2 separate regions of the Homo sapiens genome follow, and region 2 is linked to region 1. Evidence: fine-mapped expression QTL. A gene starts in region 1. The other region holds a variant in brackets. All regions are shown on one strand. Distances are between the middles of the regions.

What was found. PIP is the estimated chance that this variant, and not a neighbour inherited with it, causes the effect.
Region 2: its variant is fine-mapped to the expression of MAF1 in thyroid (GTEx, PIP 0.96).

Annotation. Positions count from the first base shown.
Region 1 is chr8:144,101,438-144,110,408 of GRCh38, forward strand. MAF1 (MAF1 negative regulator of RNA polymerase III) reads left to right here and starts at 3,024. Exons shown (of 8, transcript NM_032272.5): 1 at 3,024-3,421; 2 at 4,203-4,329; 3 at 4,432-4,560; 4 at 4,639-4,804; 5 at 4,906-5,027; 6 at 5,118-5,237; 7 at 5,398-5,526; 8 at 5,651-6,174. The coding sequence starts at 4,247. The coding sequence ends at 5,672. SHARPIN (SHANK associated RH domain interactor) reads right to left here and starts at 2,336. Exons shown (of 9, transcript NM_030974.4): 1 at 2,116-2,336; 2 at 1,614-1,788. The coding sequence starts at 2,316. WDR97 (WD repeat domain 97) reads left to right here and starts at 6,302. Exons shown (of 24, transcript NM_001316309.2): 1 at 6,302-6,425; 2 at 6,622-6,758; 3 at 6,879-7,507; 4 at 7,612-7,733; 5 at 7,898-8,597; 6 at 8,677-8,819; 7 at 8,904-8,971. The coding sequence starts at 6,314. RefSeq lists silencers at 2,078-2,177, 2,188-2,467, 3,228-3,467 and enhancers at 2,528-2,577, 3,329-3,623, 7,245-7,775.
Region 2 is chr8:144,178,156-144,188,812 of GRCh38, forward strand. It overlaps MROH1 (maestro heat like repeat family member 1), which reads left to right. Exons shown (of 44, transcript NM_032450.3): 5 at 1,300-1,431; 6 at 2,023-2,185; 7 at 2,270-2,368. Among named protein-coding and RNA genes, the nearest start is that of MROH1, 35 kb to the left of the region's middle. RefSeq lists enhancers at 34-847, 2,387-3,104, 6,235-6,778 and silencers at 3,910-4,082, 7,124-7,173. The variant G/A (reference allele first, on the strand shown) is at 5,551.

The DNA of each region.
Region 1 (8,971 bases):
TCGCTCTGTTGCCCAGGCTGGAGTGCAGTGGTGCAATCTCGGCTCACTGCAAGCTCCACCTCCTGGGTTCACGCCCTTCTCCTGCCTCAGCCTCCCGAGTAGCTGGGACTATAGGTCCCCACCACCACACCCAGCTAATTTTTTTTTTTTTTTTTTTTTTTTAGTAGTCAGGGTTTCACCGTGTTAGCCAGGATGGTCTCGATCTCTTAACCTCATGATCTGCCCACATCGGCCTCCCAAAGTGCTGTGATTACAGGTGTGAGCCACCGTGCCCGGCCCACTCAGCTAATTTTTAAATTTTTTGTATGTTGCCCAGCCCTGTACTTATTTTATATGTCTGCCTCCTCCCCTCTAAAAATGCAAGCTCCAATAGGATGGGGATGGGAGGTTTTGTTCATGCCAAAGGAGTACCTGGGACAGGGCAGCTGCTGAATACATATGCTTGGTGAATGACTAAAGAGAGCTTAGCTCCTTTTATAAACCCTGAGTTGCTTGAGTCTCTCTTACATCACTGTCTGGCTGTCTTCCTACCCCTCTGGCAGCTCTGCTTATCTCGTTTGTGGGCTGCCCTCTATCTGGGAGCCCCATACTACCTAGTCCTTCATGTTTCTCAGTCTCAACTGCTAACTCTTCCATTTAAGCAGCCATGTGAGCCAGGGGCAGTGGCTCATGCCAATAACAGCTACTTAGGCTGAAGCAGGAGGATCACCGTAGACCAGGAGTTCAAGGCTCCAGTGAGTTAGGGTCACGCTACTGCACTCCAGTCTGGGTGAGAGAGGGAGTCTTTGTCTGCAAAAAACCTCCCAAGCAGCCATGAAACTCAGCTAATTCCATCTTCTTTTTTTTTTTTTTTTGAGATGGAGTCTTGCTCTGTCACCCAGGCTGGAGTGCAGTGGCAAGATCTCAGCTCACTGCAACCTCTGCCTCCGGGTTCAAGTGATTCTCCTGCCTCAGCCTCCCCAAGTAGCTGGGACTACAGGCACACGCCACCACGCCTGGCTAATTTTTGTATTTTTAGTAGAGACAGGGTTTCACCTTGCTGACCAGGCTGGTCTCAAACTCCTGACATCAGGTGATCACCCACCTCGGCCTCCCAAAGTGCTGGAATTACAGGCGTGAGCCACCCCACCCGGCCACTAATTCCATCTTCTAAGCATCTCTAGAAACATCCTTCTCCCCAACCCTATCTGCACCAACCCTTGCCACTGCAGAACTCTGTCTTAAGCAGGAGGTATCTGAGTCTGTCACTCTCCCACTCCTGTCACTCTCCTGCTGCTCTTGGGATGATGTCTTCTCACACAGGTCCTGACCCTGCCTGCTCTGCCTCTTCATGCTTGCCTCTCATCCTTCCTGAGGGTTAAGGAAGTGCAGGCTGAGGTTCCAGGGCTTCCTGGTGGAGGCTGCAACTTGTGCTGGCTGGGGCCTCAGATGGTGTAGGAGACTGACTCCAGCAGCCACTCCAAGTACTCCAAGCTACTCCAGGCTCCACCTACTCCCTCCTGGAAGCCTTCCCAGACATCCAGCAGTGGGGAAGGTGGATCCAACTTCCCCAACCAGGACTGGGGGGCCAAGGCTATTCCAAATTGTAATTGTATCCATTACAGGGCACTGACCATTCTGTCCTTCCACGGTGGCACCTCGGACTAGGACTGCCCACCGCTGAGCTTCCTGAGGGTTGAGGAAGTGCAGGCTGAGGGTTCCAGGCCCTCCTGGTGGAGGCTGTAGCTCGTGCTGGGTGGGGCCTCGGATGGTGTAGGAAACTGACTCCAGGGGCCACTCCAAATTAACCTGAGAAGAGGGAGAGTCCAGGCTCAGGGCGTCCCCCCGCCCTACATCGCACGAGGAGCAAAGAAATACAAGGTAACATTTATAGACCATTTACACGGTCCTAAGCCCTGTACGCCTATCATCAAATCCTCACAATAGCCCTGTAAAGTAGGTCCAGGTAGGTCCCAGTAGGTCCGAGCGTCACCCCCATTTCACGGACGAGAAAACAGAAGCAAAGAAACATAACTGCTTAAGGGCACCCAGGTGGCAAGCGGAGGGGCCTAACTTTGGGCTCCGTGCCCTGCCCGGGCCAAGAGGACTGACCGCGCGCCCTCCGCCCCCACTCACCGCCCCAGGTCCCGCGCCCAGCAGCTCCAGCCGGAAGCGCCCAGGCCGCTCAGGGTCCGCGCTCAGCTGCAGCCTCCGCAGCTGTGCCTCGGCGTCTGGCCCGGCGCCCAGCGGCCTCACCGCGGCGTGCACAGCCAAGAGCACTGCGGCGGAGCCCAAGTCCGAGGCCGCCGCCGCCGCCCCGCCCGCTGGCGGCGCCATCTCCGGTCCGGCCGGGTCCCACCCCTCCGAGCGCGCTTCCGTGGGATCGGGCCGCTGAGCCCCCTCCGCCGGTCGGAAACACGGGCCGCGAACCTGGGGTTCCGGGCGCGCCCAGAGCGTCGGGCCTGGGACGGCGCCGAGTGGTGCACTCTGGCCAAGCCTGCCCCGCTGGCTTTGCCCACAAATGGACACGGCCCGAGGGTCTCCGGACACCGGCTGGGCGAGGCTGGCGGCGTGTACGAGGCTGGGGCAGGGCGGCCGAGGCGCTCACGTTAGAGCTGGTCTTTGGGGGCGAAGGGTCAGGGGGCGAAGCACCGGCCACAACTGAAGGCGGACGCGGCCTCTTCGCCCCAGGGGCTCGGCGGACGTAGATGCATCCAGCGTGCGACTATCCCAGCGCCTAACGGCAGCTGGACTTCGCTCCCGGGACCTCCAATGGGCTGCCACCTTCGCCCGCAGACCCCAGCCCCCGCCACGCCCACACGTCGCACTAGGTTGGCCCGCGCCTCACTGGTTACGGGGTCGACCCCCCTAGGGGGCGGAGCTAGAGAGGCCACGGCCAATGAACGCCGGGGGTAAGCGGGTTAGTACGACGAGAAGAGTGACAGACAGGCTCCATAACCAGTAGACGTAGAAGGCAGAACTGAGTGGCGGGTACGGCACCCGATGGCTATTCGAGCTCTCGATCTCGGAGACTGGAGCGGGCCATTCAGAGGCGCGGGGCCGGGCCCGGCGGACGCTTGTTGTTGTCCGGCCGGGGGAGGCGGAGGTCGCTCGCTCGCTCGCTCGGCTCGCTGACTCGCCGGAGCGCTCTGTGGCGGTCGGCGGCAGGTCGGTCGCGAGAGCGGGCTCTGTGGAAGGGGGCGAGGCTATGTCGCGGTGGCAGCCCGGATGGGCCGGCAGGGCCGGGAGTAACGGGACGTCGCCGCGGAGCTTCTTCCCCCGGATACAGTGCGGCCCGAGCGGAGGCCGCGGCGCCGCCCTCCGATCTTGAAGAGCCCGCGCTGCGCGGAGCCCGCCCCCGCCTGCGCACCGGCACCGACGCGGAGCGACCCAGCCCAGCCAGACCCGGCCCGGCGCGGCCTGATCTAACCCAGCCAGGCAGGTGGGTGTCCGCCCTGCGTCCCGCGCCGTCTGCGTACCCGGAACCACAGCCCCCAGCAGGCCTCGCGCGGCGCGCTGCCTCCTGGGATTTGTAGTTCCACCGCGGCTTGGCTGGTGCCCGACGTGGCCCAGGCGGGCGCTGCCTGGTGACTGCAGCGCCCCAGCGGGGCCGAGGGACCGCCCTCCTAGGCGTCTGGAGAAACTAGGCAATTTTTCCGGGTAGAGTGGAGGAACCTGTAGTTTTCCTCTCCCCGGGCCAGAAAGTAGCCAAAACGAAAGAGCGCCCGCCCAGGTGACCGCAGGGCCCGGAGTCCCAGGTGTCCTGGTTCCTAACCGGGATGCAGCCTCTTACCTTGGCTGAGGAGCCCAGCCAGCCTGAGGGAGACTGCAGGAGTCACGTCCCGTTGCGGACTCAAGAGTTACCCCCATGGTGGCTGGAGCTCTTTTGGAGTGGGCGTGGAGATGGGGAATGGGAATGTTGAGCAACAATCTCAGCCAGCAGCCCCAGGGTGAGCAGGGTCCCCGGTGGTCTAGTCTAGTCCCAGAACTCGCGTGTTCTGCAGGGGGTATGGCTGACCTGGAGCCTGGACTTACCACCCTCAGGTAAAACAGGATCTCTGTCACCTCTCCTGGCCGGGCAGAGAGGGGAGCTCCTGATGTGCAGCCTGGACAGAGGCCAGACTCAGCTTGTTCCTAGCGGCTCCACTTAGTGGGTAGGAGGGCTGAAGGCAGGGCCCCAAGGGGCCAGATAGATACCCATGGTCTGGTCTCTCACTCCCCAGGCAATACTAGCCCCTCTGGAGCACGGAGCTCCTTCCCCAAAGACATGAAGCTATTGGAGAACTCGAGCTTTGAAGCCATCAACTCACAGCTGACTGTGGAGACTGGAGATGCCCACATCATTGGCAGGTGAGGCAGGCTGGGGGGGCTGGCATCTCGGAGGTCACACTGCCGCGCCCTTCAGTGGAACCTGGGGGAAGCATGCTTCATGGTTCTCTCTGCATCCTATAGGATTGAGAGCTACTCATGTAAGATGGCAGGAGACGACAAACACATGTTCAAGCAGTTCTGCCAGGAGGGCCAGCCCCACGTGCTGGAGGCACTTTCTCCACCCCAGACTTCAGGACTGAGCCCCAGCAGGTGAGCCATGGTGGGGCCTACCTGGGGCTGGGGGTTGAGGGGAGGTGATGGGCCCAGCTGATGGTTCTGTCTGTGCAGACTCAGCAAAAGCCAAGGCGGTGAGGAGGAGGGCCCCCTCAGTGACAAGTGCAGCCGCAAGACCCTCTTCTACCTGATTGCCACGCTCAATGAGTCCTTCAGGCCTGACTATGACTTCAGCACAGCCCGCAGCCATGAGTTCAGCCGGGAGCCCAGCCTTAGCTGGGTGAGGGTCAGGTGGAGGGAAGGGACCCACAGCCACCCCACTGTCCTTCCCCACTTTGGGTAGCCCTGGGCTCCTGTCACCCTGACTGTGACCTGCCCTAGGTGGTGAATGCAGTCAACTGCAGTCTGTTCTCAGCTGTGCGGGAGGACTTCAAGGATCTGAAACCACAGCTGTGGAACGCGGTGGACGAGGAGATCTGCCTGGCTGAATGTGACATCTACAGGTGGGCCGGCATCCCTGCAGATGGCCTCCAGGCCTCCAGGTTTGTGGGGCACTTGGCGCCTCACACCACCTGTCACCCTATACTCCCCAGCTATAACCCAGACTTGGACTCAGATCCCTTCGGGGAGGATGGTAGCCTCTGGTCCTTCAACTACTTCTTCTACAACAAGCGGCTCAAGCGAATCGTCTTCTTTAGCTGCCGTTCCATCAGGTGGGCACCCCCCGCCTCCTCCCCCACCTCCCTGTTGGGCCGATACAACTTCCCCAGCTGTGCCATCTCCACCCAGCTTTGCCCTCCCTGAACATCCTCCCTGGGGCCAGCAGCAGGCCTGGGTAGGGGTCCTGAAACTGGTTTCCCTGCCTCCCCTCAGTGGCTCCACCTACACACCCTCAGAGGCAGGCAACGAGCTGGACATGGAGCTGGGGGAGGAGGAGGTGGAGGAAGAAAGCAGAAGCGGGGGCAGTGGGGCCGAGGAGACCAGCACCATGGAGGAGGACAGGTGTGTGATGGGGGCCATGACCCGGGTCCTTGAAGCCTGGAGTGGGTACAACAGGGTGGGGGCCTCCTCTACTTGGTCTAAGTGGTGGCTCCTGAAGGCCCACTGTGTGCCAACCTCCGCCCAGGGTCCCAGTGATCTGTATTTGATGAGGAGGAGCCGAGGCCCCAGCTTCATCCAGCTTCAACCAATGCCTGGACCTGTCCACCTGAGAGGCCCCTGGGGCCTCCCCAGCTGCTGGCCAGACCCTGGCGCTGCCACAGTCCTGGCACTGCCCAAGGCCATACCTGCCTAGCCCTTTGGCTCCATCCTGTGGATGCCCACTCACCCCTCAGACTCCTGCTGCCCATGCTGTGGCCGGACTTGTCAGCAGGGGGCCTGGTGGGAGGAGCGACTGCCCTGCCCAAATGAACTGCCACAGCAGGGACAGCTGGACCGCAGAGTTTATTTTTGTATTTCTACTGGGCCTGCACACTCCAGCCCAAAGGGTCTGTGGCCGGAGGCCCCACGAGCAGGCCCCAGCAGTCACCGGCTCTGGTCTTGGGCCGGCCCCGGTGCCCACCTGTACCCCCACCTCGCCCATTTGGCCGCGTGCACTGAGTGTCACTTTGCTGCAGCTCGTTTCTTTCCAATAAAAGTTTCTGTGACTTAGTGTGGACCTGATGCGGTGTGGGGGTGGGGCCTGCGGTGTGGGAGTGGCCGGCGGCATCTGGTATCCTAGCAACTGCCGCTGCGGGCCGTGACCGCTAAGTCCTGGGAGCTGTTGGGCTCTGGGACCGCAGTTGCTGAAATGGAGGCAGAGGTGTGGGAGGCAGAAGGCTACAACCTAGTTCTGGACTCGGACCTGTATGATGCGGATGGCTATGATGTCCCAGACCCTGGGCTGCTCACCGAAAAGAATGGTGAGGGGGCCTGGCCTCGCCCTCCGGGCATCCCGCTAGGAAGTGGGTCTCATTCGGGCTTGGGTTCCGTCCCCTGGAACAAAACTCCCCTGGGCAGTCCCTGGTAGGGCAGGGCCCCTGGAGGAGGGCTCCCCATAACCGTCAGGGTCGAGGACCTGAGGCTGTAGGTGGCAGAACTTCCAGTTCCTGCCCGCAGAGTTGACTTTCACGGAGCCGTCGCAGGTCCTGCCCTTTTTGACCAGCAGCCAACAGTGGCAAAGCCTGACCCCGCGCGCCCGCGCCCGCCGGCTGTGGCTGCTTCTGCGCACCAGCCTCCACGAAGTCGTGGAAAAGGTGCGGTGTGCCTGTCCTGCGCCTCCTGGCCTCTTTCCGGATCTGGGCCTTCCCTTAGGGGTCCCCTAGGCCGGAGTAGCCCCAACCTTTGATTGCGGGCCCGCCCACCCCGGCCCACAGGAGAAGAGAGCCGAGCTGCGCGCGGCGCGCCTGACGCATGGGCTGGAACCACTGCGCCGCCTGGAGGTGGCAGCCGGGCTGCGCTCGGTGGCGCAGGACCCGGTGGGTGGACGCTTCGTGGTGCTGGACGGCGCGGGCCGCCTGCACCTGCACAAGGAAGACGGCTGGGCACAGGAGACGCTGCTGGCGCCTGTCCGGCTTACGGGGCTGGTGACCGTGCTGGGCCCGCTGGGTGCCGTGGGCCGTTTTGTAGGCTGGGGCCCCGCGGGGCTGGCAATTCTGAGGCCCAACCTCAGCCTGCTGTGGCTGAGCGAGCAGGGGGTGGGCAGGGCCCCGGGTTGGGCGCCCACCTGCTGCCTGCCGGTTCCCGACCTCAGGCTGCTGCTCGTTGCGGAGATGAACAGCAGCCTGGCGCTCTGGCAGTTCCGTTCAGGTGGTCGCCGCCTGGTGCTGCGAGGGTCAGCACTGCACCCGCCCCCGAGCCCAACAGGCAGGCTCATGCGTCTGGCTGTGGCGCCGGTTCCTCCCCACCACGTCCTGCGCTGCTTCGCGGCCTATGGCTCGGCCGTGCTCACCTTCGATCTGCATGCCTGGACTCTCGTAGATGTGCGCCGGGATTTGCACAAAACGTGAGGGGGATCCCCCTAGGGAGGGCCAGGCATGTAGGGGCACACGGCCCTCACACACAAGGCGATGTTAAGTCCATTGGGATTCTCCCATTCCCCACCTGTAGCACCATCTCGGACCTGGCTTACTGCGAGGAAGTAGAGGCAATGGTGACAGCTTCCCGGGACAGCACCGTGAAGGTGTGGGAGGCTGACTGGCAGATCCGGATGGTGTTCGTGGGCCACACAGGTGCTCTGAGTTCTCTGCACCCCGAGCCTCGGCCCTTTGCCTCCAGCCGCTCTAGGCTGTCCAGCATCTCCGCAGCTCCGGCCAGGCCTTGCTGCGCTGACTGCAACACAGGCTGAAGGCTCCCCTGCCTTCAGTCGGCCGAGTGACCTGCACCCCTCCCACAGGCCCGGTGACGGCTATGACTGTGCTCCCGAACACGACCCTGGTGTTGTCGGCCTCGCAGGACGGGACGCTACGCACCTGGGACCTGCAGGCGGCGGCGCAGGTGGGCGAGGTAGCGCTGGGCTTCTGGGGCCAGGACAAGCTGTCCCGGCGCGTGGGCCGTCTGCTGGCGCCGGTGCGCCCGGGCTGGCCGGTGCTGTCCCTGTGCGCGAGCAGCATGCAGCTGTGGCGCGTACGCGAGCTCTACTCGCCGTTGGCGCAACTGCCCGCCAAGGTGCTCCACGTGCAGGTGGCGCCCGCGTTGCCCGCGCCTGCGCACCAGTCGCTGCCTACGCGCCTCGTGTGCGCGTGCGCCGACGGCTCGGTCTACCTCCTGTCGGCGGCCACCGGGCGCATAGTGAGCTCACTGCTGCTGGAGCCGGAGGACTGCGCGGCAGCCGTGGCCTACTGCCTGCCGCGCGAGGCGCTGTGGCTGCTGACCAGGGCTGGGCACCTGGTCCGCGCCAACGCGGCGCGCTGCCCCATGAGCGTGCTGCACCGCGTGTGCCCGCCGCCGCCCCCTGCGCCGCAGCCTTGCTGTCTGCACCTGTACAGCCACCTCACGGATCTCGAAGGCGCCTTCTCCTCCTGGGAGATCGTGCGCCAGCACTGGGGCGAGTTGCGCTGCAGCTCTGTGGCCTGCGCCTGGAAGAACAAGAACCGGTGGGTGCGGGAGCCGGCGAGGGTCTGGCGGGCGGAAGGAGCGGCAGGGTCCGCGCCAACAGGCTCTTCCCACTCGCAGGTACCTGCCAGTGGTGGGGCACACGGACGGCACGCTGTCGGTGCTGGAGTGGCTCTCGTCGAAGACTGTCTTCCAAACGGAGGCGCACAGCCCGGGCCCGGTTGTCGCCATCGCATCCACCTGGAACAGCATTGTGTCTTCGGGTCAGTAGCTCCCCTGCCAAAGGCCAGGCCGCCACAGAGCCCCCTCCCCTCCGACAAGGCCCAGCCAGATTCCGCTGCCCACAGGTGGGGACCTGACGGTGAAGATGTGGCGCGTCTTCCCCTATGCCGAAGAGAGCCTGAGCCTGCTGCGC
Region 2 (10,657 bases), 78 kb after region 1:
CAGAGTCTTGCTCCGTGGCCCAGGCTGGAGTGCAGTGGCGCGATCTCGGCTCTGCAACCTCTGCCTCCCGGGTTCAAGCGATTCTTCTGCCTCAGCCTCCCGAGTAGCTGGGACTACAGGTGTGCGCCACCACACACGGCTAATTTTTGTATTTTTAGTAGAGACGGGGTTTCACCATATTGGCCAGGCTGGTCTCGAACCCCTGACATCAGGTGATCCGCCCGCCTCAGCCTCCCTAAGTGTTGAGATTACAGGCGTGAGCCACCACGCACGGCCTGTACTTTTTTTTTTTTAGTAGAGACAGGGTTTCACCATGTTGGCCAGGCTGGTCTTGAACCCCTGACATCAGGTGATCCGCCCGCCTCGGCCTCCCTAAGTGTTGAGATTACAGGCGTGAGCCACCGCGCCTGTTCGGGTTTTTGCAGGTCACCTCTTTATAGCCATGTGAGAATGGACGACAGAGCCTGTGGGCCTCTGGGCCGCCCTGTGCCGGCCATGTTGCCTGGTGCAGGCTGCTCTCAGGGTGGTGGAGGGAGGGGCCATGGTGGGTGCATCATTGGGGAGGGGCTGTCAACACAGGGTGGCTGGGTGCCCCAGGTTCCTTTCCTGGGTTGGGCAGTAGCCTACTCTGCTGTGTGCCCCCGCGGGTCCCAGCTTTCAGTCCCAGTCCTTGGTGTGTCCCCAGTTGAGGCAAGGACAGTGTGTGCTCTTTGGATTTACAGTGGAGGTGGTGGTCGACAGGAGAGCTGCTTAGGGGGAGGATGAAGGCAGGTGGTTGGACTCTGCGGAGGGTTAACCTGGGAGGTGGAGGTGGCTTGGGGGCGTGGCAGAAGGTGGTGTGGTGGGTGGCGTTTTTCCTTAGCAGCCTTGGGGAGGGGCCGTTGGATACAAGCACTAGCCTAGCGGCAGAGACTGAGGCCATGACCACTGAGCTGGGGACAGGAGTGTGCTCCTCCTCTGACAGGGGAGGGCAGGGCAAGGAGGTGGAAGGGTCCTGGGAGTGTCATGTGACTGGGAGACCCTACTGACTACCCCTGGAGGAGAGAAGCCCCCCGCCTCGCCCTCTGCATGTTGGTTGTCTGGCGCAGGATAACGCTCCACCCTTCTGGAGATGGGCCGTGAGTGTGAGGCTTGCAGGCCGGCTTTTAGGGCGTGAGGAGTGATCAGGTGTACCCCTCCCCTCCTGCACTTGAGGCAGAGAGATTTGTGCGGTTTCATCTTGTAGAGACAGTGACAGGCACTCAGAGTGTCTGGGTGTGGGGCTCACCTGGGACCGACCTGGACGGTGTCTCTCCGCAGCTGGCACACCCATACCGAGCAGCGGTCCTGAGGGCCATGGAGAGGGTCCTGAGCAGTCGCGCCAGTGAGCTGGACAAGGACACAGCCAGCACCATCATCCTCCTGGCCTCCAGCGAGATGACCAAGACGAAGGTATTCAGCAGGCCCTCTGGCCTCGCAGACTCAGGCCTAGCTTGGGAAGGGAAGCTGCTTCTTGGCCTTTCTACCCAGCAGCCTTGAGAGTATAGGGTGGTGTTTGGCTGCCTTGGGCTGGCAGATGCCCTTCGGTCTCATGCATCACCCTGCAGGGGTGGGGGGTGGTCCCCTGTGATTTTCAGAGGCAGCAACTGAAGCAGAGAGCAAGTTGCCAGAACTCAGCACACGCAGGACCGTGGTGTGCGTGCAGCTGGGGCCAAAGGCTGTGCCCGGCATTGGGGTTGGTGCAGGGCTCTGGTGGGCCTAACTCTCAGGGCACTGAGTGCAGCCCCCTCTCACCAGGGCTCTGCTGCTCCTGCGTGTGGGGTCTCCTCAGCAGCCCCTCACCTCTCACCAGGGCTCTGCTGCTCCTGCGTGTGGGGTCTCCTCAGCAGCCCCTCAGCAGAGGAGGCTGTGCCCGCCACCTTCCCTGACCTGCACTTTCTGGGGACGCTGAAAACAGCGTGCGCTTGTCCAAGGCTGGCAGCGACTGAGGGCAGAATGTCTTGGTCTTGCCTTTTGGTCTACCTGCCGGTGTTTTGGGTTCAGGACCTGGTCTGGGACTGGCAGCAGGCGGCGAGTGGCGTCCTGGTGGCCGTGGGAAGACAGTTCATCAGCAAGGTGATGGAGGAGCTGCTGCGCAGGCTGCACCCTGGGACCCTGCCACACTGCGCCGTGCTGCACACCCTCGCCAGCCTCTCGGTGGCCAACGGTAGGTGACGCGCGGCCTGCCCCAGGAGGAGCACGGGGCGCTGGAAGCCTTGGCGGAGGCCTTTGACGGTGTCCTCTCTCACAGCGTTCGGCGTAGTCCCCTTCCTGCCATCCGTCCTGAGCTCCCTGCTGCCCGTGCTGGGCGTGGCCAAGCAGGACACGGTGCGCGTGGCCTTCTGCTCCGGTAAGAGGCGGCCTCGTCACCTTCTGTCTCAAGTGCCCCTTTGTGGGGGGCTGTTCCCGGGCATGCCTGTTTTAGGGGGGACAGGTGGGCACTTTAGGCTGCAGGAAGGGGGGCTGTTGGAGGGAGGGGCCCCCTGGCTGAGGCTGCTGGCTGGTTGGGGGGCCCATGTGGGGCTGACACAGCCTCTGTCTCTTGTTTCTCTCTACTCCTGGAGAGCCCCCCACCTTACATTGTGGGTCCACTGAGGGCTGGACGTGCCTGGGGGGTAGGAAGAGACTTCCTCGAAGCCATGACTTTTTGTTTTCCTCCCCACTCCAGGCTAGAAAAGTGTCCGCTCTCTGGGCATCCCAGGACCCAGGGGATGGGGGCACATTCATTCACCCCCACCCTCTGCCAGGAGCCCCATTCCTGGCAGCACTGCCCACAGCCCTCTGTGTGCCTGGCAGGGGACTGCGGGCATGTCATGGGCCTGGACCTTGGTTTCCCCTGCCACTGACAGTGGGGGAGTGGTTGGTGGGATTGGAGGGCATTTCTGTTAGAAGGGGGTGTGGAGATTAGAGATCCTGAGCTACCCTTAGTGCCCTCACAGCCCACGGCCTCGTGCTCCCGGTGTCCCATGTCAGGAAGACGGCCAGCCCTGGTAGCTGGCCGGGAGGAGAACAGGACCCTCGTGCCCAGGGGACCAGCCCTCGTAAAGAGCCAGCCCTCTGGGGCCGGGGGCCGTTAGTTCCAGGCAGCAGGTGTGGGAGGACCCAGTGATGGGGGAGGGGCCCGGTGATGGGGGAGGGGCCGGTGATGGGGGAGGGGCCTGGTGGGGCCCGGGCAGGGCATGTTTTCGAAGCATGGAGGGAGTGGTTACAGGGCTGGGCTGGGCTCTGTAGACTGCAGGGTTGGTTTGGAGCATTTGGACCCACCTGCTCTGCTCCTGGTGACTTTGGGTTCAGATCACAGGGCTCCTGCCACCCTCTCCTCAGCCCTTGCGCTCCGTCTCTCCTGGCCCTGCTCTTTGATAAATGCCTTCATCTTTGGGGCACTCCTTCACAGGCTCTTTCTCACCTGTGGATGAGGGCAGGGCCCCTTGGGTAGAAGGGATAGTAACTCCATGTGACCCAGTTTTGGCTAAAAATGGGATTGGTGACAGGATGGGGGCAGCTGCATACTGAGCCAGGTGTGAAGGAGCAGAGAGTGGAAGTGGGTGTGGGTGTGGACTCAGCTAAGGTGCCTGGGGCGCAGGACGTGCCATCCAGGCTGCAGGGCGGAGACAGAACGGGGCCGCTGGGGCGCCTGTCTCTGTGCTGCACGCACATCGCCCCTTCCCGCCACTCCTCTGGGAAGTGGCCTGATCCCTGCAGCTGCTGAGGCTCTAAGCAGAAACGGACTTGCAGTTCTGACACCTCTTGCTTACCTTCCCCTTCATAGGGGACCTGCGGCTCCTCTGGGCCCTACCATGCTGGCATTTTCCTCCATGTGTCAAACACATGGGTTCAGCCAGCGAAGATTCCATGGGACCTCCTCGTGTGGGACGTGTGCTCCCCACCACAAATGGAACGTTCCCTGTTTGCATCTGGAGGGGTTGGTGGTCCTGCTGGCTGGAGCAGCCTGGGGCCAGAGGAAGCCGTATCAACCGGGTGAGGCCTAGTGGTGGGGGCGGTGGCAGGCCTGCGTCCACTGCGGGAGGGTGCAGGTCCAGCCAGGACAGGCAGTGTGCCAAGGACAGGAGTGCCCTCAGGGCACTGCAGCCAGGAGGCGAGGAGCCTCAGGGAAGACTCCCAGTGGTGGAGGCACGGCTGGCCTGGCCACGCCGTCCAGCAGGGCAGGCATCCAGTAATTCCTCCCGGCCAAGGAACCCCTCCAGTAGGAAAGGTGGCAACAAAAGAAACAGACACTAATTGGAGATGTAGATGGTTCAGGGAGAAGAAAATAACAGAGAAAGAAAATCTCTGATTAATATCCTCAGGAAAATAAGTGGGCATCATGCATTCACGGGACAAGAGGTGTCACCATGGAGAAGCCACATTGAGAGAATAAAACTGACCTTCTGTGAATTAAAGATGCCATAATAGAAATGGGAAAAATAATAGAAGAATTGGAAGAGAAAGTTGTGGAAATTTCCAGAAAATAGAGGAAAAAGGCAAAAATATGGAAAGTAGGAGAGAAAGAGAAGAATGAACTAGCAGGCTGAACCCTGAAGCCAGCATTCCAATCAGAGGCACCCTAGAAAGAATGGACAGAGATGGGAGGTCAAGAGATGACGCAAAGGCATGCCCTAGTGGCCGGGTGCGGTGGCTCATGCCTGTAATCCCAGCACTTTGGAAAGCCGAAGCGGGCTGATCACTTGAGGTCAGGAGTTCAAGACCAGTCTGGCCAACATGGCAAAACCCCGTCTCTACTAAAAATACAAAAAAATTAGCCGGGTGTGGTGGCGCATGTCTGTAATCCCTGATACTGTGGATGAGACAGGAGGATTGCTTGAACCTCGGAGGCGGAGGCTGCAGTGAGCCAAGATTGCACCACTGTACTCCAGCCCGGGTGACAGAGTGAGACTCTGTCTCAAAACAAACAAATCAAAACTAGCTGGGCATGGTAGCTTACGCCTGTAATCCCAGTACTTTGGGAGGCCAAAATGGGAGGATCACTTGAGCCCAGGAATTCGAAACCAGGCTGGGCAGCATGGTGAGACCCCATCGTTAGAAAAAATATTTTTAAAAATTTGCCAGGTATGGTAGCACATGCCTGTATTCCAGCTCCTTGGAAGGCTGAGGCAGGAGGATTGCTTGACCCTGGGAAGTCGAGGCTGCAGTGAACCAAGATCAAGCTACTGAACTCCAGCCTGGGTGACAGAGCAAGACTCTGTCTCAAAAAAAAAAAAAAAAATCCTAATAACACAACAGGGGTGGGCTTCTGCTTGTGGCATTATGGTGGTCTGTTATTCTGAAAAAACTTCCCACTGCCGAATACCTGGAATGCTGATGAGTTGACCAGCATCCTTCTGATCAATCAGAAGGAGAAACCTAGGCCCACGGAGGTCAAGAGGGGAGGTGAGAGGTTAGAGCTCTCCAGTGGCCCCTGGGCACCTGCCTGCCTTGATTTCACATGGGAGACAAGGCCTTTCTTCTTCTTTTTTCTTTTTTCTTTTTTTTTGAGATGGAGTCTCGCTCTGTTGCCCAGGCTGGAGTGCAGTG[G/A]CGCGATCTCGGCTCACTGCAAGCTCTGCCTCCCAGGTTCACGCCATTCGCCTGCCTCAGCCTCTCCGAGTAGCTGGGACTACAGGCGCCCACCACCACGCCTGGCTAATTTTTTGTATTTTTAGTGGAGACGGGGTTTCACCATGTTAGCCAGGATGGTCTGGATCTCCTGACCTCGTGATCCGCCCGCCTCGGCCTCCCAAAGTGCTGGGATTACAGGCATGGACCACCGCGCCTGGCCAGACAAGGCCTTTCTTTGCACTGGGTCAGAGCCCACCTGTACCAGACCCTTCAAGGCCCCTCCTCAGCAAAAAGTGACTGATGAGGAACCTTCCACTGTGCACCCTGGGAGGTAGTCTGTTTTCTTTTAGAATTTCTTTTAAATCCTCTCTCCTGAGAATTTGTAACCATGGTCTGTCCTGATGTAGTTGTAGGGTTCAAAGTTGTTCTTTGTGTTGGACTGGGAAGCCCTTAAGCTGAGACGTTAGCCGTGTAAATGGGCCGGGCTGAAGTGTCCTGGGTGGGGTGACCAGTGTCCTACTGAATGTTTGCGTCCCAGTCAGGCTGCATGGCAGTGGCTCTGGCCGGGGGGTGTGGCCGTGGGAAGCAGCGCTTCCCTGGAGCGCAGGGTCTCGGCTCTGGTGTGGGGCCAGCAGCTCTCCACGGACCCAGGACCAGCAATATCAGTTACAGTCACAAAGCACACACGTCAGCACACAAAAAAAGGAGCATTAGAGCAGAAAGTCACATAATTTGGATTGATGAGATACAGGATAAAAATAGCAAGGTAAAGAGGCGAAAGGGAGAAAGGACAGGGTCCTACAAGGACAGAGCCAGTGTGAAAAGAGAACCAAATACAGTCTAGAAACAAAACTGTAACCATTTCCATTAAAGAGTAAGGAGGTGGGTGTGGCAGCCGGTTGCAGACACTGAAGAGAGTGCACCAGCTGGACAGGGGTCTGGGGACAACCCGGAGGGCAGCCCTGAGCTGGCAGAGAGAAGGGGGTGCGGGGCAGGCGTCAGGTGAGCTGGCCGAGCACCCCCAGCTACAGAGCACGAGTCCAGAAGAGGTGAGAAGAGGCCCAGGCTCACCGGCATCATCAAAGGGAGATGCTGTGGAGGGGCCGCCAGGAGCTGCTGACTTTCACAGCCAGTGCCAGACCTGTTCCCTGGAGCCCTGTCACCTCCACCCAGGGCAGAAGGACGCTATGGGGCTGGGGCAGAGCAGGAGTCCCCACCCCCTGCACTGGAGAGGGTGTGGAGGCCCTGGGTGCTGCTGGTGAGTGACAGGTGTGCAGGGGATCCCCGCGCCAGCAAGAAAGGAGCTGAGGAGGAGGGGGAGGCAGGCAGCCTCTTGCCCTTTTCTCTGTCGGGGAGGGAAGTGTCTTGTAGCTTTAGGGAAACCACTGCAGTGTTGCAGTCCCAGGATTTCTGTGCAGTGTGTCGCTCCTGCAGGCAGCCTGCCGGTTCCACTGGAATCCTCGTGCTGTGCCGCCTGACCCTCCCTGGCCTCTGTGGTTTCTGCAGGGTGGGAAGTGGGAGCTGAGCCCTCCCATCTCACTGTATGTGTCAGGCCGTTGCAAGTTTTGTCGTTACTGTGGTCTCACCTACCCAGACCTGAGCAAGGCAGAAAACACAGAAACTAATGCTTTAGAAAATAAGCAGTTGGCAAAACGTTATGTTTTATACCTAGTTCTTTGAAATAAGTGAATTAAATACTTAAGCTGCTGCCTCATCAAGAGAAAAGAGAGAAACAAGCCAAGTGGTAAACAGGAGGTGAATAGATGTGAGGACAGCGAGGGGTGGCGCGGGGACCGCGGGGAGATGTGAGGGGTGGCATGGGGACCGTGAGAGGGGCGGTGAGGGGCGGCGCAGGGGCCTTGAGGGGATGTGAGAGGCAGTGCGGGGACCGCGGGGGGCGGTGAGGGCCGGGGGGGGGGACGGTGAGGGGCGGCGCAGGGACCTCGAGGGGACGTGAGGGGCAGTGCGGGGACCGTGGGGGGAGGGGGAGGGGCGGCGGGGGGACGGTGAGGGGCGGCGCGGGGACCTCGAGGGGACGTGAGGGGCAGTGCGGGGACCGTGGGGGGAGGGGGAGGGGCGGCGCAGGGACCTCGAGGGGACGTGAGGGGCAGTGTGGGAACCACGGGGGGGCGGTGAGGGGCAGTGCAGGGACCGTGGGGGGATGGTGAGGGGTGGCGGGGGGGCGGCGAGGGGCGACGTGGGGACCACAAGGGACCAGCAAGGGCCGCCGAGGGGACCGCGTGCCCAGTGCAGCCACCTCTGAAAGCCCAGCAGCGAGTGCTCCAGGAGAGTGCCACTTCCCAGGCAGTGCTCCGTGGGCTCCGCAGTGGGCTCTCTCCCAGTCCTCAGGGCTGTGTCACCCCGGGGAAATGAAGCAAAAAGGACAGTTTCCAATTTTTTTTTTTTTTTTTGGAGACAGGGTCTCACTCTGTCACCCAGGCTGGAGTGCAGTGGTGTGATCTTGGCTCACTGCAACCTCTTGCCTCCCAGGCTGAAGTGATCCTCCCACCTCAGCTCCCAGAGTAGCTGCGACCAGAGGTGCCCGCCACCACACCCAGCTAATTTTTGTATTTTTAGTAGAGACGGGGTTTCCCCATGTTGGCCAGGCTGGTCTCGAACTCCTGACCTCAGGTGATCTGTCCACCTCGGCCTCCCAAAGTGCTGGGATTACAGGCATGAGCCACTGCGCCCGGCCCCAAATTATTTTTGTGACCTGAGCATCACCACAAAAGAGATCCAGGGACCAGCCTCACTCAGGGTCTGCCCTCCCCGTCCATGCCCCTGCTGCTGAACCCAAGTCAGAGATGGTTTCAGGTGCCTTTGCTGGGATACAGTGACCCTTGATATCCCAAAACTTGGAACGAAGCAGATTCCTATCACCTCACATACCCCGCTGTGATCGCTGACCCTAGGAACAAAATCCATATTGCCTGGCATAGGGGCTGGCTCTGTCCTGACGGGGGGGTCACCCCAGGAGTGAGAGGCCAGCTCCACATTGGGAGGGTGGGCCCTCACACTGATCGACATAAGAAGGGAAACCACATGGCCACTGCCCTTGTTTATTCTTATTAAAAACTCAGGCTAGGCCGGGCGCGGTGGCTCACGCCTATAATCCTAGCACTTTGGGAGGCTGAGGCAGGCGGATTGCCTGAGCTCAGGAGTTTGAGACCAGCCTGGGCAACACGGTGAAACCCCGTCTCAACTAAAATACAAAAAATTAAATTAGCCGGGTGTGGCAGTGTGTGCCTATAGTCCCAGCTACTCAGGAGGCTGAGGCAGGAGAATTGCTTGAACCTGGGAGTCAGAGGTTGCAGTGAGCCAAGATCACGCCACTGCATTCCAGCCTCAGTGACAGAGTGAGACTGTCTCCAAAAAAAAAAAAACAAAACAAAACAAAACTCAGGCCGGGCATGGTGGCCTACGCCTGTAATCCCAGCACTTTGGGAGGCCGAGGTGGTTGGATCGCTTGAACCCAGGAGTTTGACACCAATCTGGGCATCATAGTGAGACCTCTGTTTCTAAAAAAATATAAAATTAGCCAGGTACAGTGTCACGCACCTGTAGTCCTAGCTACTTGAGAGGCTGAGGTGGGAGGATCACTTGAGCCCAGGAGGTCGAGGCTGCAGTGAGCTAAGTTGGTGTCACTACACTCCAGCCTGAGTGACAGACCGAGACCCTGTCTTAAAAAAAAGAAAAAAAACCAAAATCCTACAATCACCCACACAGACAAAGAATGGAAGAAACCAAAGGTTTTTGGTCTTCACTTAATAAAATTGTTTATATAAAATCCCAACACATTCCCACAAATTATTAGAGGTGACAAGAATTTAGCAGGATGCTGTTGGAGGATCAGCAGCTGAAGCTTATCTGCATTCCTGTGTACTAGACTCAGAGGTGCCAGCTCCTCTGTGAATCGATCATCACAGATTCTGGTGAGCTTCTGATGAGAGTCCCGCAGGGCCTGAGTCAACCATTGGGTTTGCGCCTGGAGGTGCTGGTGACCCTGAAGGCAGTGCTAGAAGGTGGCCAGTGGCCCCATGAAGGGGACGAGGGGTACAGGTAGAGATTTTTTGTCTGGGTGGCGCTTCTCAGGGCCTTTGCTCTTGCAGGGTTGCTGCAGGGTCTGTGTCAGAGGGAGGCTTTATGGGGACCGATGGCTACACGGGAGCCAGGTGGGGGTGTAGGAAGCACAGAGCATAGGTGCGGGTTCCGGTGGTCTCAGGGTCCTCTTCCATGAGGTTGTCAGCCCATTGTGAGGAGGGGTTTGTGGCGAGAAAAGGGTGTGAAACAGTTGCCCAAGCATGGAAAGCCAGGGACCGGCGAGCCTCGCAGGACTGTCGGGAGCACCTGCACCCTTTGATTCTTACAGGCTGGGTTTAAAGTGATTTCTTAAGATACAAAAAAGTATAAATCACAAAGGAAAATATTAACAAGTTTGACATGACAAATTAAAGGAATTTGTTCATCAGAAGATCTGAAAAAATGTACAGAACTGCAGATGAACATCACCAAGAAAAAGAATTACCAAAGAAGATACTATAAATACTTTTCTCTACTTTATAAGAAGTGGAAAGGCTCACCCATGGCCCTGGGAGCAGCAGTGGATGGGGCCTAAGGCCAGTGGGAACTGGCACTCACACCCCAACCTGGCCCTCTGCACCACATGTGCTTCAGCCCAGGGGGGCCTCACAGCAGCCCTGGGTCAGGTGCTACCACTGCCCAATTTTTTTTTTTTTTTTTTTTTTTTTTTTTTTTTTTTTTGAGACAATCTCACACTGTCGCCCAGGCTGGAGTGCATGGCGTGATCTCAGCTCACTGCAACCTCTGCCTCCCGGATTCGAGTGATTCTCCTGCTTCAGCCTCCCAAGTAGCTGGGATTACAGGGGCGTGCCACCACACCCAGCTAATTTTTTGTATTTTTAGTACAGACGGGGTGTCAACATGTTGCCCAGGATGGTCTCGAACTCCTGACCTCATGATTCACCCGCCTCAGCCTCCCAAAGTTCTGGGATTACAGGCATGAGCCACTGCGTCCGGCCACTGCCTCATTTTATAAGTGAGGAAACTGAGGCACAAAGAGGCTGAA